Regions from separate parts of the Homo sapiens genome. Here region 2 is linked to region 1. The links come from fine-mapping of genetic effects on gene expression. Tissue or cell type: whole blood. Region 1 holds a variant in brackets; the other region holds the start of a gene. All regions are shown on one strand. Distances are from middle to middle.

Region 1 (8,104 bases):
GATCCAATCACCTCCCACCCGGCCACTCCTCCAACATTGGGGATTACATTTCAACAAGAGCTTTGGGTGGGGACACAGATCCAAACCATAGCAGTCCCGGTGTCTACTGTTCACTTCTTTCTGTCCATGTGTGGTCAGTGTCTCACTCTCACTTATGGGTGAGAACATGAGGTAGTTGGTTTTCTGTCCCTGTGTTAATTCAGTTAGGATAATCACCTCCAGCTCCATTCATGTTGCTGCAAAGAACATGATCTCATTCTTTTTCATGGCTGTGTAGTATTCCATGGTGTGTATGTATCACATTTTCTTTATCTGGCAATCCTGCACTTCCTCATCTGTACATGGAGATAATAACAGAACCACTTCAGGAGGTGGAGGGACATTTTAATGACACAAATGTTAAGTGCCTGGCACCTGTTGCTAGTGTCTCCATCTTTGTTACTAGAGTTTTTTGGCTAGATGAGGTGGCTCACACCTGTAATCCCAGAACTTTGGGAGGCTGAGGCAACAGGATTGCTTGAGGACAGGCATTAGAGACCAGCCTGAGCAACATAGCGAGACTCTGTCTCCACAAAAAAATACAAAAATTAGCCAGCTATGGTGGTGCATGCTTGTAATCCCAGGTACTTGGGAGGCTGAGACAGGGGGATCACTTGGGCCCAGGAATTTGAGGTTGCGGTGAACTGTGATTGTGCCACTGTACTCCAGCCTGGGTGACAGAGTAAGACCCTGTCTCTAAAAAATAAAAATTAAAAGAAGTTTACATCTGTCAAAAGTCATGCTGGGATCGGGACTAGCTATGTAATTTGCAAGACCCAGTGAACAATGAAAATGCAGAACTCCTTGCTTTAAAATTATTAAGAATTTGGCCGGGCACGTTGGCTCACGCCTGTCATCCCAGTACTTTCGGAGGCTGAGGCGGGAGGATCACCTGAGGTCAGGAGTTTGAGGCCAGCCTGGCCAGCAAGGTGAAACCCTGTCTCTATTAAAAATACAAAAATTAGCCGGGTGTGGTGGTGCATGCCTGTAGTCCCAGCTACTTGGGAGGCTGAGGCAGGAGAATCACTTGAACCCGAAAGGAGGAGGTTCCAGTGAGCCGAGATCGTGCCACTGAACTCTAGCCTGGGTGTCAGAGCAAGACTCTGTCACAAAAATAAGTAAATAAATAAAAATTAAAATAAAATGAATAAGCATTTCAGAGGGGCAACAGCAGAGCATTAAACTGACAGAAAAGGGTCCTGCATCCACTGCCTGAGATGTGGGAGGGATGGAAATGAGCAGTGATTTGGGGCAGGGGTGGGGAAGAGTGTGCTTCCAGAATACTGACCTCTGAGCCCACTGCCTGGTCCCACTGCACCTACGGGACTGTTTCGGGACTGCTGGAAAATCAGGATGTGGAAGAGCAGCAGAGAGGTTTATGGACAAGGGAGGGAAGGAACAGGGTGGCCCACCCATTCCAGGAGTGGATGTGATTTTTGATGTGAACTTTGTTGGAAACACATTGATATGAAACATATATTTTCTTATTCTATTTCAGTAGACGTCCCGTCAAATATTGCAAAAATTATCATCGGCCCCCTCATCTTTGTCTTTCTCTTCAGTGTTGTGATTGGAAGTATTTATCTATTCCTGAGAAAGAGGTGAGTTCAGTGAGTTCAGTGGTGTGCTGGGAACAGTTGGTTCTCTGGGGGAAAACATGCCTTGATATAGGTATAGGCATATTTAAGTTTATTATGAATTTTGCTGATATAGGATGTGTAACATGCAATTTACAGATAATTGTCATAATATGATATACACAACTCTTTATTGTAAATTCCCTCTAGACAGTTGATTCTCACAGAATGTTTTTATTGATTTTTTTTTTTGCCCAAACCTTTATATCCGAAGCTAACCTATTATTGCAATTGATAAACAAGTAAAGCTCCAATGTGAATGTTGATTAATTTTTCAAAATTTACATTAAGGAGTAGGACTTGACTGGGCACAGTGGCTCACACCTGTAATGCTAGCACTTTGGGAGGCCAAGGCGGGTGAATCACCTGAGGTCAGGAGTTTGAGACCAGCCTGGCCAACATGGTGAAACCTCGTCTCTACTAAAAATACTAAAAAATTAACCGGGCATGGTGGTGGGCGCCTGTAATCCCAGCTACTCAGGAGGCTGAGGCAGGAGAATTACTGAACCCTGGTGGCGGAGGTTGCAGTGAGCTGAAATCGCACCATTGCATTCTAGCCTGGGCGACAGAGGGAGACTCCGTCTCGGGAAAAAAAAAAAAAGTAGGACAAAACTGAAATAAGACATATATGTTCATCAGTGATATGAGTGACGTCTTTGCTGAGTCAGATGGTAATTTTTAAATATCAGAAGAACATTTTGTGCCACATGCAACATCACAGTTGCAGACATGACACGCTTTTAAGTTTAATCTACATGATTAAACATTTTTCTCAGCTGGGCACGGTGGCTCACACCTGTAATCCCAACACTTTGGGAGGCCGAGGCGGGCGGATCATGAGGTCAGGAGTTCGAGACCAGCCTGACCAACATGGTGAAACCCCGTCTCTACTAAAAATACAAAAATTAGCAAGGTGTGGTGATGTGCGCCTGTAATCCCAGCTTCTCAGGAGGCTGAGGCAGGAGAATCGCTTGAACCCAGGAGGCAGAGGTTGCAGTGAGCCGAGATCGCACCATTGCACTCCAGCCTGGGCAACAGAGTGAGACTTTGTCTCAAAAACAAAACAAAACAAAAAAATATTTTTCTCATCACTTTCTCAAGCCTGGACAAACAACAGAACAACAAATCCAGTCCTGAGTTATAGCATTTGCCAGTTTCTGTAATGTAAATATTCCCAGGATGTCTAAATTCAAGCTGTAGACATAATATTACTGAGTGCAGTGTTAGAAAGAGATACATAATAGCTCCCCATTGAATCCACCCTATGGATACAATATGGTGTATAAATGATATAATGTAAATAACCTCAACTGCATTGATCATATTTAAATGTAGTATGAGAGTTAGGAAGTGATGAGTTTTGAACATGTATTGTCTTTGCTTTTAGGATAATTTATTTAATTGTAAGCCTCTATAATTTATATTTTTTGTTCTATTTGGAAGGCATTGTACAATTTAATCTTTAATGATGCTTGTATTTAACAACTGGCTCACTAGTTTCCTGAAAATTTAATAATTGTTTCTCATCAGTCGGGATGAGCTCGCTCTAGAACAGTACTGGGTGAGTGGCTTTTAAGTGTTACATGGATGGCCATAAATTATTTAAAAAGCCAGCCAGAGCCCTGCATGGTCGTGCATATCTGTAGTCCCAGCCGCTCGGGAGGATGAGGCAGGAGGATCACTTGAGACCAAGAGTTCAAGACCAGCCTGGGCAACATAGTGAGACCCTGTCTATATGAAATTTTACAAATTAGCCAGGTGTGGTGGTGAGCACCTGTATTCCCAGCTATTCAGAAAGCTGAAGTGGGAGGATCTCTGGAGCCCAGAAGGTTAAGACTGCAGTGAGCTATGATTATACCACTGCCCTCCAGCCACAACAGAGCAAGACTGCAACTCTGAAATGTAAAAACAAAAACAAAAACAAAACAAAAAAAAAACCACCCAGGGAGGGATGAGTGCTCCCATGTTGATGCACTTACATACCTGTCTGATGGGCTTCCATTCAAAACATAAAGGTCCCCCATCCCTGCCCTAGACTGCATCTAGGATTATGGGGATTCTGCTGGTAAGGGCTGCCATTTGCCTTGGGGAGTCTTGTATGAAACACCTTTCTGCAGAGTCCCATGAGAATCTCAAGCTAACGTGCCTCGTTTTCCTCCTCCAGGCAGCCAGATGGGCCGCTGGGACCGCTTTACGCTTCTTCAAACCCTGAGTATCTCAGTGCCAGTGATGGTGAGTACCATCCCTTCCCTGTGGGTGGCCAGAACCCTACTCATCAGCTTCCTTTGCCTTCACCATTGAGTGAGAGTGAAGGATGGGTTCCCCAGGGAGGCCAAGAAAAGCCCTCTTATTCATTTGAGCTTGCCAAACTGCCCTTGCTGCAGAAACCTCATTACTGTGTGCATCTGGACACATGGTATTTGGCACCTGCCTGAATGGGCTCATCTAGCCGGTCTGGGACCCTTGGGCAGGGTCGACCACTTGGGCTGGGCTCAGCTGGGCAGTTCTTCTGGTCTTGCCTGGCTTCACCCATGTAGCTACATTTTGCTGGTGTGTCAGCTAGCACTCGGTAGTCTTAGATGATTTCACTCACATGTCTGGTGGTCAGTAGGCTGGGTGGTCCCAAGGTGGGGGCCCTAAGCTGGGGGAGGCTGAGCCTCACTCTGTCCATCTAGCCTCTTAGGCTCCAGCAGGCTGGCTCAGGCTTCATTCCATGGTCCTCTGTTGGTTCCTAGTAGAAAGCTCCAGGGCAAGCTCCAGGGCAACAGTCCATTCCAAATCTCTGCTTGGACAATTCTTGTTGATTCCCATTGACCAAAATAACTCACAAGGCCATGCCCAGGGCCAAGGGGTGGTGAGATAGACTCCACCTTTTCATGGGAAGAGCTCCAAGTATCCTGGCTTTTTTTTTCCCCAACCTATTACAACCTGTCTTCCATCCCCTTGGCACTTTGCAGAAACAGTAGTCTCAGGTGGGAAGTAGCATCATTCCATAGCAAGGGTCTGAAATCAGACAAGAAGGATGGGGATGCAGGTTTGCCTCAGGACATATTGGCCAGGATCTTGGACCAGTTGTGGCTCCTTCCTTGAGTCTCTGCCATGCCCTCTCCATGGGTGCAGATGCCTGTCCTGTTCTCGGCCATATGCCCAGTGCCCGGCATGGGTCCTGGATCACAGAACTCATTTCATGAGTGTTTTCGAGGGGGTTTGGGTGAGGGCTTGGGTGGAAGGTGGCTGCAGACCCCCAAGGGATCCTCCAAGGATGCTGTGTAGATAAGTAAGAAGTAGTGTTTCCATGCTCTGTGTA[C/T]GTGCCGGACGAGTGGGAGGTGTCTCGAGAGAAGATCACCCTCCTTCGAGAGCTGGGGCAGGGCTCCTTCGGCATGGTGTATGAGGGCAATGCCAGGGACATCATCAAGGGTGAGGCAGAGACCCGCGTGGCGGTGAAGACGGTCAACGAGTCAGCCAGTCTCCGAGAGCGGATTGAGTTCCTCAATGAGGCCTCGGTCATGAAGGGCTTCACCTGCCATCACGTGGTGAGTCCAGTGGGGGTGGGACATGGGCTGGCTTTCCTGACCCTTCCCTTTCTCTGCCTCCTCCTCCTGCACAGAGCGACAGAGGACACAGGGTGTAACCTCCTACCCACCCCTCACTCCACTAAGCTTCCCATCCTAGAGGTGTGAGGAGGGATCATTCCCTTCTCAAATCCCATCCTCTCCCACTTCGCCTGGAACCAGACTCTATCACTGTCTCATCACTTTCTGGAATGTTTCATTGCTTTCCAGAATCTTTCATCACTTTCTGGAATCTTCCATCATTTTCTGGAATCTTCCACCACTTTCCGGAATCTTCCATCATTTTCCACAATCTTCCATTGCTTTTTAGACTCTTCCATTTCTTGCTTTTTCCTGGCACCTTTGTAACCCAGGACCACATAGAGGTCCACCTGATACCACCTGCCCTCGTTCCTACTCTCCTTTGAAGGCAGCACCAACTCTTCCTGCCTTTCTGCTCCTTTGTTCCTCTTTGAGTCCTATGTGCTTTCATCCTTGCCACACATATTTATGGGGCATTTAAAGCCCTGCTCTTGTCCCTGTGATACAGTGGATACCTGCCCCTGTAGAGCTTCCAAAACAGCAGGCGGAGACAGACTCCAAAACCTTTATTTTTATTTTATTTCATATATATATATATATATATATATATATATATATATATATATATATATATTTTTTTTTTTTTTTTTTTTTTTTTTTTTTTTTTTTTTTTTTTTTTTTCCTGAAACGGAGTCTCGCTTTGTTGTGCAGGCTGGAGTGCAGTGGCACAATCTCAGCTCACTGCAAGCTCCACCTCCTGGATTCACACTATTCTCCTGCCTCAGCCTCCCGAGTAGCTGGGACTACAGGCGCCTGCTACCACGCCTGGCTGATTGTTTTTTTTTTTTTTTTTTGAGATGGAGTCTCACTCTGTCACCCAGGCTGGAGTGCAGTGGCATGATCTCAGCTCACTGCAACCTCTGCCTGCTGGATTCAAGCAATTATCCTGCCTCAGCCTCCCGAGTAGCTGGGACTGCAGGTGCCTGCCACCACGCCCAGCTAATGCTTTTTATACTTTTTTTTATTAGAGACGGGGTTTCACCATGCTGGCCAGGCTGGTCTTGAACTCCTGACCTCGTGATCCACCCGCCTTGGCCTCCCAAAGTGCTGGGATTACAGGCGTGAGCCACCACGCCCAGTGCCTGGCTAATTTTTTTGTATTTTCAGTAGAGACGGGGTTTCACTGTGTTAGCCAGGATGGTCTCGATCTCCTGACCTCATGATCCGCCTGCCTTGGCCTCCCAAAGTGCTGGGATTACAGGCGTGAGCCACCACGCCCAGCCTATTTTTATATATTTTTAAGACAGAGTCTCTCTCTGTCGCCCAGAGTGGAGTGCAGTGGCACAATCTCGGCTCACTGCAACCTCTGCCTCCCAGGTTCAAGCAATTCTCCTGCCGCGGCCTCCTGAGTAGCTGGGATAACAGGAGCCCACCACCACACCCAGCTAATTTTTGTATTTTTAGTAGAGATGGGGTTTCGCCATGTTGGCCAGGCTGGTCTCGAACTCCTGAATTCAGGTGATCCACCGGCCTCAGCCTCCCAAAGTGCTGGGATTACAGGCATAAGCCACCACCCCCAGCTGACTCCAAACCCTTTATACATTAGGAGCAAATGCTATGGAAACATGAAGAAAGGGAGGAAAGGAGGGTTGGACAGGGGTGTATTTGAGCAAAGACTTAGAGGACATGAGGAGCTGGGCCCTGTGGATGTGGCAGGGAACAGAGAGCCAGGCAGAGGGAATGATTAAAATACAAAGGCCTGGCTGGGTGCAGTGGCTATAATCCCAGCACTTTGGGAGGCTGAGGCAGGCGGATCACCAGAGGTCAGGAGTTCAAGACCAGCCTGACCAACATGGAGAAATCCTGTCTCTACTAAAAATACAAAAATTAGCCGGGTGTGGAGGCGGGCACCTGTAACCCCAGCTACTCGGGAGACTGAGGCAGGAGAATTGCTTGAACCCGGGAGGCAAAGGTTGCAGTGAGCCGAGATCACGCCACTGCACTCTAGCCTGGGTAACAGCAAGATTCCGTCTCGAAAATTAAAAAAAAAAAAATACAAAGGCCTATCTGTCTGCTGTCCGGGCAGGTATGTCTGCTCTCCTAGACCAGGGCTGAGCACGCTGCATCCAGGCCACAGGGTGCTGTGTGTGACATAGACACCAGGGAGGGAGGAGAACCCTGGTGAGTCGAATCACGGACCCTCCTCCAAGAACCCTGGTTGCTTGCTCTGCAGGTGCGCCTCCTGGGAGTGGTGTCCAAGGGCCAGCCCACGCTGGTGGTGATGGAGCTGATGGCTCACGGAGACCTGAAGAGCTACCTCCGTTCTCTGCGGCCAGAGGCTGAGGTAAGCTGCTTCGGGGGACCCAGCGGGGTACTCGGTGGAGCACCCGCTCCTGGCCTCCTCGGATCCCAGTGCTGCTGAAACACCAACCCCGTGTTTCTGTTTTAGAATAATCCTGGCCGCCCTCCCCCTACCCTTCAAGAGATGATTCAGATGGCGGCAGAGATTGCTGACGGGATGGCCTACCTGAACGCCAAGAAGTTTGTGCATCGGGACCTGGCAGCGAGAAACTGCATGGTCGCCCATGATTTTACTGTCAAAATTGGAGGTTCGTCTGGCTTTCTGCTTTGAAAACATAACGACCCAGGCCAGGTTTGATTTCAGAAGGAAGTTGTCTATAATGAGCCGTTAAGTCTTTTCTGATAATATAAAGGGGCAAGATACTTCTTTTTTTTTTGTGGGGTTTTTTTTGTTTTGTTTTGTCTTTTTGTTTTTGAGACGGAGTCTTACTCTGTCTGTTGCCCAGGCTGGAGTGCAGTGGTGTGATCTCAGCT
Region 2 (8,085 bases), 170 kb before region 1:
AAAAGAAAATCACAAGGAAGAGAAAATACATTTACAGTTACAGAACGCTACAATATTTATCAATGCCATAAATTTGTTTACAAGATGAATTGTCTGTCTGAAGCAGACAACCGCAGCTGTAGAGCTCCATTTATGTTACGTAGCAAGCAATTCAACTTTTTCTTGTCCTGTCCTGACTTTTCTCTGCTTCTCGGGAGCATTTCCAGCATCACTAGTGGCACTTTACATGGGTCTCAGGATGTTATTCAATGTTTGCGGTATTGCACTAAACACAGTGAAAAATACGCGGGAACCGCCAAGAGATCCCTTTTTACCGGGGCACAAATTCCTGGAGAGGTGAACTGCCCACAGGGAGATAATTAATGTAACATGGCATTTAAAGCGGATACTTGCAACACTTGCACTCACTCCAGTAGCAACAGGAGGTGGCTATGAAATTGTTACAATAACACAATATATTCTATAGTTAATTTTATGCAGTTATGATTGAATGCTGCATCTTTACATTTATTTACATTTCTCTTGACTTGGAATAACACCATGTATGGTTTGTAAGTGTGTGTGTACGTTTTAATACATTTTAACTTTTTGTAACAGATTTGTGTATATTTTATGTTAGCAAATTATAAAATAGGGCTGGACATGGTGGCTTATACCTGTAATCTCGGCACTGTGGGAGGTAGAGGCAGGAGGATCACTTGAGTTCAGGAGTTAGAGACCAGCCTGGGCAACATGGTGAGACCTCGTCTCTATAAAAAGTAAAAAAATTAGCCGGGCGTGTTGGTGCTTGCCAGGAAGATCGCTTGAACCCAGGAGTTGGAGGTTACAGTGAGCCATGATTGGGCCACTGCTCTCCAGCCTGGGCAACAGAGCAAGACCCTGTCTCTAAAAGAAAATAATAACAAAAATAATAAAACAGACTAGTATCTACATATATTTTATGCATTCATGACATACCTAATTTTTTTTTAATATTTCTTGGCTACCAAGTTCATCTGCAAGTCTTTTCAAACTATTGCAAATCTCTAAAAATGTTTCCAATATATTTATTGAAAAACATTCTGTTTAAAGATGACCTCACTTTGGGAGGCTGATCAGATCAGCTGAGGTCAGGAGTTCGATACCAGCCTGGCCAACATGGTAAAATCCCGTCTGTACTAAAAATACAAAAATTAACCGGGTGAGGTGGCGTGTGCCTGTAGTCCCAGATACTTGGGAAGCTGAGGCAGGAGAATAGCTTGAACCCTGGAGGTGGAGATTGCAGTGAGCTGAGATTGCTCCACTGCACTCCAGCCAGGGTGACAGAGCGAGACTCTGCCTCAAAAAAAAAAAAAAAAAAGATGTGCACGGTTCAAACTCATGTTCAAGGGCCCACTGCAGTTCTCACCCATGGCTTCACTTTCTCCTCTTTCTTTTCTGCAGCTACAGTGAATGCCTGGTTCAGTTGCAAGAATGCCTTGCCCACTCTCCTCTGGGCCTTTGCTCATGCCTTCCCCCACCTGAAACACATCCCTATGGCTTCCCTAGGATGGCTCCTCTTCATTTTCAGACTTAAGCTCAAAATCACATCCTCAGTCAGGTGCAGTGGCTCACGCGTCTGTAATCCCAGCAATTAGGGAGACCGAGACAGGCAGATCTCTTGAGGTCAGGAGTTCAAGACCAGCCTGTCCAATATGGTGAAACCCTGCCTCTACTAAAAATACAAAAATTAGGCAGGCGTGGTGGCATGCACCTGTAATCCCAGCTACTCTGGAGGCTGAGGCAGGAGAATTGCTTGAACCTGGGAGGCGGAGGTTGCAGTGAGCCAAGATCGTGCCACTGCACTCCAGCCTGGGCAACAGAGTAAGATCCATCAAAAAACAAACAAACAAAAAACCCCATGTCCTCAGCAAACCCCTCCCTATGCACCTCCCATTTCCCTCAGCTCATTACACACTCAATTATTTTAAGGGCTCTCTCCCTGGCTCAGTTGTGAACTCCATAAGGAAATGGGTCATGTTTATTTTGCTCACTGAAAAATCCCCTATTACTTATTGCTTGTTGATTCTCCCACTCAACAAATATTTATTAAGCAACAGATTTGTCAGGCACTGGGTTTAAGCAGTGAAACAAGACCGAAAAGATTTCCGCCTTCACGGGAAGGGGAGAAGACACAGAAAACGAATAAGAATTTCAAGGCCAATCATGGTGGCGCATGCCTGTAATCCTAGCACCTTGGGAGGCCAAGGCAGGAGGATTGCTTGAGGCCAGGAGTTCAAGGCTGCAGTAAGCTAGGATTGCACCACTGCATTCCTGCCTGGGTGACAGCAAGATTCTGTCAAAAGGAAAAAAAAAGAAAGAAAAGAAAAAAAAAAAACAAACAATTGCAGGTAGTGGGGTAAACATGCTATGAAAATGAGAGAGAAGGGGCCAGGCGCAGTGGCTCAGGCCTGTAATCCCAGCACTTTGGGAGGCCAAGGCCGGTGGATCACCTGAGGTCAGGAGTTTGAGACCGGCCAGGCCAACATGGTGAAATCCTGTCTCTACTAAAAATACAGAAAATTAGCTGGGTGTGCTGGCGCATGCCTGTAATCCAAGTTACTTGGGAGGTTGAGGCAGGAGAATCACTTGAACCCAGGCAGGTGATGTTGCAGTGAACTGAGATCTGGCCATTGCACTCCAGCCTGGGCAACAGAGAAAAACTCCATCTAAAAAAAAAAAAAAAAAAAAAAAAAAAAAAAAAAAAAAAAAAACAGAGAGAGAGAGAGAGAGAAGGAAACGGAACTGGGGGGAGGATTTGCAAAAATATGGTTAGGGATGGCACTTCAGAGATGAAGCCATCCTGGAGTGTTACGGGCAAGGGAAATGCTGGGGCAAAGGCCCAGAGGCAGGAATAGGTTTGGCCTGTTGCATGAACAGTGGGTCCAGCTCCTAGCAAACTGTTTATTGAATGAAAGAAGAATGAATGCCTTGGGTCTAGGGTTGTGCTGGGCGCTTTCTTAAGTTTTCTTTCCCGGGTACCTCCCCAGAACTGGCATGCAGGTATTATTAAACCCATTACACAAGTGAAACTGGCCCAGAGACAGAAAAGTCCCTGGTCCAAGACCACACAGGAGTGAGGGGTGGAGGAACCCTCCTCCCATTGAGTTCTGGCTTTCCTATACTGAAAGCCCCTTCCTCTCCTGCAGTAAGGTAGGTGGAACCGCTGTCCCGCCTTGTTGGTGAATGTCGTTGCTAGACTTCAGACACATACAGGCTGGTCTGCTGAAAATCAGAGATGTCCACCTGCGCCCTATTCGAGGTCTCCGGCGTCTTCTTTGGCGTCGTCTTTGCCCTTTCAGAAGCGTCTGCACATTTTTCCAGGTGTCATTTCTCCAACTTGAACACAGGGAGCGCACTGGGCACGCGGGCACGTGGCTGTCCCCAGGGGCCTGGCTTGGGTCTCGCCCCTGGGCCGGGGCGCACTCGCGGGCGGGACATCTGGGGGCGCCCACGCGCTCTGGGACGAGTGTCGCTGGCCAGGCCCGGACTGAGGAAAGGCGAGTGAGACACTACTCGCCTGGGGTGCAAAATTTAAGGGAGTGAAAAAAAAAAAAAAAGAAAGAAACCAAAACCACCTCGAGTCACCAAAATAAACATTTTAATGCAGTATTTTTTAAAAAATCAACAGGAATCCTCCAAAGCCCACTATGAACAAAATAGCAAAATGGTAGAGAAAGGATCTGTGCCGCTGCGTCGGGCCTGTGGGGCGCCTCCGGGGGTCTGAAACTGGAGGAGACTCGGGGCTGTAGGGCGCGCGGATCTGGGGCGCGCCCTCGGTCCCGGCGCGCCCAGGGCCTCCCGCGCGGGGCCCGGCACAGGGAGGCGGGGAGGCGGGCGGGGCGGGGCGGGGCCGGGCGGCACCTCCCTCCCCTGCAAGCTTTCCCTCCCTCTCCTGGGCCTCTCCCGGGCGCAGAGTCCCTTCCTAGGCCAGATCCGCGCCGCCTTTTCCCGCGGCCCGCACGGGGCCCAGCTGACGGGCCGCGTTGTTTACGGGCCCGAGCAGCCCTCTCTCCCGCCGCCCGCCCGCCACCCGCCAGCCCAGGTGCCCGCCCGCCAGTCAGCTAGTCCGTCGGTCCGCGCGTCCCTCTGTCCCGGAGCCCGCAGATCGCGACCCAGAGCGCGCGGGGCCGAGAGCCGAGAGACAGTCCCGGGCGCAGCGCGGAGCTCCGGGCCCCGAGATCCTGGGACGGGGCCCGGGCCGCAGCGGCCGGGGGGTCGGGGCCACCACCGCAAGGGCCTCCGCTCAGTATTTGTAGCTGGCGAAGCCGCGCGCGCCCTTCCCGGGGCTGCCTCTGGGCCCTCCCCGGCAGGGGGGCTGCGGCCCGCGGGTCGCGGGCGTGGAAGAGAAGGACGCGCGGCCCCCAGCGCCTCTTGGGTGGCCGCCTCGGAGCATGACCCCCGCGGGCCAGCGCCGCGCGCTCTGATCCGAGGAGACCCCGCGCTCCCGCAGCCATGGCCACCGGGGGCCGGCGGGGGGCGGCGGCCGCGCCGCTGCTGGTGGCGGTGGCCGCGCTGCTACTGGGCGCCGCGGGCCACCTGTACCCCGGAGAGGGTGAGTCTGGGGGCGCGGGCGTGGGCGGGGAGCGCCGCGATGGGGAGAGGACCCCACCCAAGCCAAAATCGAGCCCCCGCTTGTGGACTGAGAACCCTCCCCAGGGGCGGGGGGCGGTGGCCAGGACGGTAGCTCCTGCATCGCGTAGGGGGAGCGGGAAGCCTCTGACCTTGGCCTTTGCCCGCCCGGGCTCGCGCCTCCGCGCCCTGCGTGCCCGACCTGAGCCCGAGGAACCTTGCCCCGGTGCCCGCCCCGCCGCGGGCTCCTCTCTGGAGCGCGCCTCCGACCCGTGCCCCGGCCCCTCCGAGCCCAAGTCGCTCCGGAGACACGACACGCGTCATCTTTGGGTCGCGGCCGGGAAGTGGGGTCACTGGGTCTGGACAGCCCCGAACAGCCAAGTCCCCCGAGCGCATATGGTGTAGGTAGAGCCAAGCGCCCTGAGTGCCTCACCGGTGGGTGACGCTGCCTGGGGTCAGGGACTGCAGAGCCCCCCTCTACCCAACTACCTTGGATCTAGGCCCGTGGCCACCCCGGACTCTAGGTCCATGTTTACCCTTTTGGGTTCTGTTTCCAGATGTCCGGAGGCAAATTCTAAAGCCTTAGCAACAGCAGCAATTGTAGCAGAAGTAGTGGCGGTTTTTTACCCTATTTATTGTAATTGGTATCACCGCACGCCACAGCCTAGTCTATCTTATCTCTCTGGACTGTCACAGTGGCCCCCGGAGGCAGATACAGTTATGCACCCATTTCACAGAGGAGTAAACTGAGGCTCATGTAGGACGCATAACTCCCTTGCCCTAAAGTCAGTGCCAGAGCCAGGACTTGAGCCTCTGTGTGTCCCGTTCTGCCCAAGAATCTGGACTACTGTCCCTTGTCTGCTGTCTCCTTGACCCCTCCTCTCCCCTCAGCCCTGCGCTTCATGAAGGAGCCTTTGACCTTGAGTGAGCCTTTCGTTCCCCCTGACCCCATGGGCCCCTCTCCCACGTGTGGGCAGCATCTTCCTTGGGCTTGACAATAGGCACCTTTGGGGTTGTAAGATGAAGATGGCGCAATCATTTAAGGAATATAGCCTGGGTTTCCCACTGTGGGGTCTGAGGCCCTGCTTTAAAAATATCTGTTGGGTTACTGTTTCAGATTTCTCCATAAAAGGAAATCAGTCGTGATGAGGAAGGGGTCAGGGAGGGAAGGAATTGAAGCTCTTAAATGTATTGATGGGGAAACGGGTGCATGTAAAATCAGGTGCTAGAGTGGACCAACCGGGTTTGCTGAGTCGACTCTGTCAATCACATAATGTCTAAAAGCCCCGGGCCCACCCCCCCCCAGCCCCGCCCCCAGGTGCCTGGGAGACAGTAGGTGCTCAATGAAGGGTGGCGGTTAGTTGGAGTTCTTGTTAAGAAAATCTGGCCAGCTGCGGTGGCTCAAGCCTGTAATCTCAGCATTTTGGGAGGCTGAGGCGGGCGGATCACGAGGTCAGGAGATGGAGACCATCCTGGCCAACATGGTGAAACTCCCTTCTCTGCTCAAAATACAAAAATTACCTGGGTTTGGTGGCGTTCGCCTGTAGTCCCAGCTACTTGGGAGGCTGAGGCGGGACAATTGCTTGAACCCGGGAGGAGGAGGTTGCTGTGAGCTCAGATGGCACCACTGCACTCCAGCCTGGCCAAAGAGCGAGACTTTGTCTCAAAAAAATAAAAAAAAAGGCGGGGCGTGGTGGCTCACGCTTGTAATCCCAGCACTTTGGGAGGCCGAGGCGGGTGGATCACCAGTTCAGGAGATCACGACCATCCTGGCTAACACGGTAAAACCCTGTCTCTACTGAAAAATAGAAAAAATTAGCCGGGCGTGGTGGCGGGCGCCTGTAGTCCCAGCTATTCCGGAGGCTGAGGCAGGAGAATGGCGTAAACCCGGGAGGCGGAGCTTGCAGTGAGCCAAGATCGTGCCACTGGGCGACAGAGCGAGACTCTGTCTCAAAAATAAATAAATAAATAAAAAGAAAATCCAAGATGAGTGGTTTCGAACTATGCCAGATTCTATGTGTGCGTGTGTGTGGTTCCCTGTTCTTCTGTTCCTTGTAGCTTTGGTAATTAATTGTGGATCTGTGCCTGGGCTTTCAGGGTCAGTAAATGGATTTACCATTTCTTTGCACATTTATGGCTTCCATATGGGCAGGGGTTTATGGTTTGTTGTTGTTCACCGTTGCATTTCTAGAGCCCAGAACGATGCCTGGCACATAGTAGGTGTTCAGTAAATATTTGTTCTGCAGTGGGGCACAAGTGGTGGAGTTCCTGGGTGTACTGGGCTCCTTTATCATCTTAAGGAGTTCCTTATTCTCTGCATAATACCTTCCTAAGAATTAGAAGAGCAAGCTCTCAGCAGGTGCTGTTCTATGCGCTTTGCATATATAATCTCAGTTAATCCTCACGGCAAAACCCCACGAGGTGCGGTTTAATCTTCCCTTTTCACAAGTGAGAAAACTTCGCTTGAGGCCAGCAGGCAGCAGGGCTGGGATTGCAATCTAGCTAGTGTGGCTGCAGAGCAATGGTTTCTTAACAAATCTTTGTTCTTTTGAGTCCGAGCCTCCGTACCCCCCACGATTGGGGTGATGGTGAACAAAATCCTGTCAAATAAATGGGCTGTGATGCCTCTTGAAGGCTTGGGGAGGGGCAAAGAACTTTTCAGATCATTAATCTCTAATGTCAACCAATATGGCTTTTTTTTTTTTGAGACGGAGTCTTGCTCTGTCACCCAGGCTGGAGTGCAGTGGCACGATCTCAGCTCACTGCAACCTCCACCTCCCAGGTTCAAGGGATTCTCCTGCCTCAGCCTCCCCAGTAGCTGGGATTACAGGCGTGTTCCACAACACCGGCTTATTTTTTGTATTTTTAGTAGAGACAGGGCTTTGCTGTGTTAGCCAGGATGGTCTCGACCTCCTGATCTTGTGATCCACCCGCCTCGGCCTCCCAAAGTGTTGGGATTACAGGAGTGAGCCACCGTACCTGGCCTTTTTTTTTTTCTTTTTTTTTTTTGAGACAGGGTGTCACTCTGTCACCCGGGCTGGAGTGCAGTGACACGATCTTTGCGACCTCCGCCTTTCAGGTTCAAGTGCATCTCCTGCCTCAGCCTCCTGAGTAGCTGGGATTACAGTCGTGTATCACCACCCTTGGCTAATTTTTGTATTTTTAGTAGAGATGGGATTTCGCCATATTGGTTAGGCTGGTCTCAAACTTCTGACCTCAAGTGATCTGCCTGCCTCGGCCTTCCAAAGACCTGGGATTATAGGTGTGAGCCATCACTCCGGGCCCAATATGGCATTTTGATTGGGATGAAGGGTGGAGGAAAATCAGTGTGATTTTTGTATCTATCTCTCTAGCTATCTATTATTTTTTGAGATGAGGTCTTGCTCTGTTGCTTAGGCTGGAGTGCAGTTGGGCAATGATGGCTCACTGCAGCCTCGACCTCCTGGACGCAAGCCATCCTCCTATTTTAGCCTCCGTAGTAGCTGGGACCACAGG

What was found. PIP is the estimated chance that this variant, and not a neighbour inherited with it, causes the effect.
Region 2: INSR starts here. The variant in region 1 is fine-mapped to the expression of INSR in whole blood (TOPMed, PIP above 0.99). The same link has a PIP of 0.9 or more in cerebellar hemisphere, cerebellum, cerebral cortex, lung, nasal epithelium and subcutaneous fat.

Annotation. Positions count from the first base shown.
Region 1 is chr19:7,122,388-7,130,491 of GRCh38, reverse strand. INSR (insulin receptor) reads left to right here. Exons shown (of 22, transcript NM_000208.4): 15 at 1,538-1,640; 16 at 3,841-3,908; 17 at 4,965-5,209; 18 at 7,503-7,613; 19 at 7,719-7,878. Among named protein-coding and RNA genes, the nearest start is that of ZNF557, 57 kb to the right of the region's middle. The variant C/T (reference allele first, on the strand shown) is at 4,984.
Region 2 is chr19:7,290,280-7,298,364 of GRCh38, reverse strand. INSR (insulin receptor) reads left to right here and starts at 3,951. Exons shown (of 22, transcript NM_000208.4): 1 at 3,951-4,573. The coding sequence starts at 4,474. RefSeq lists silencers at 3,370-3,549, 3,690-4,079, 4,100-4,379, 4,520-4,659, 4,710-4,769 and an enhancer at 4,751-5,509.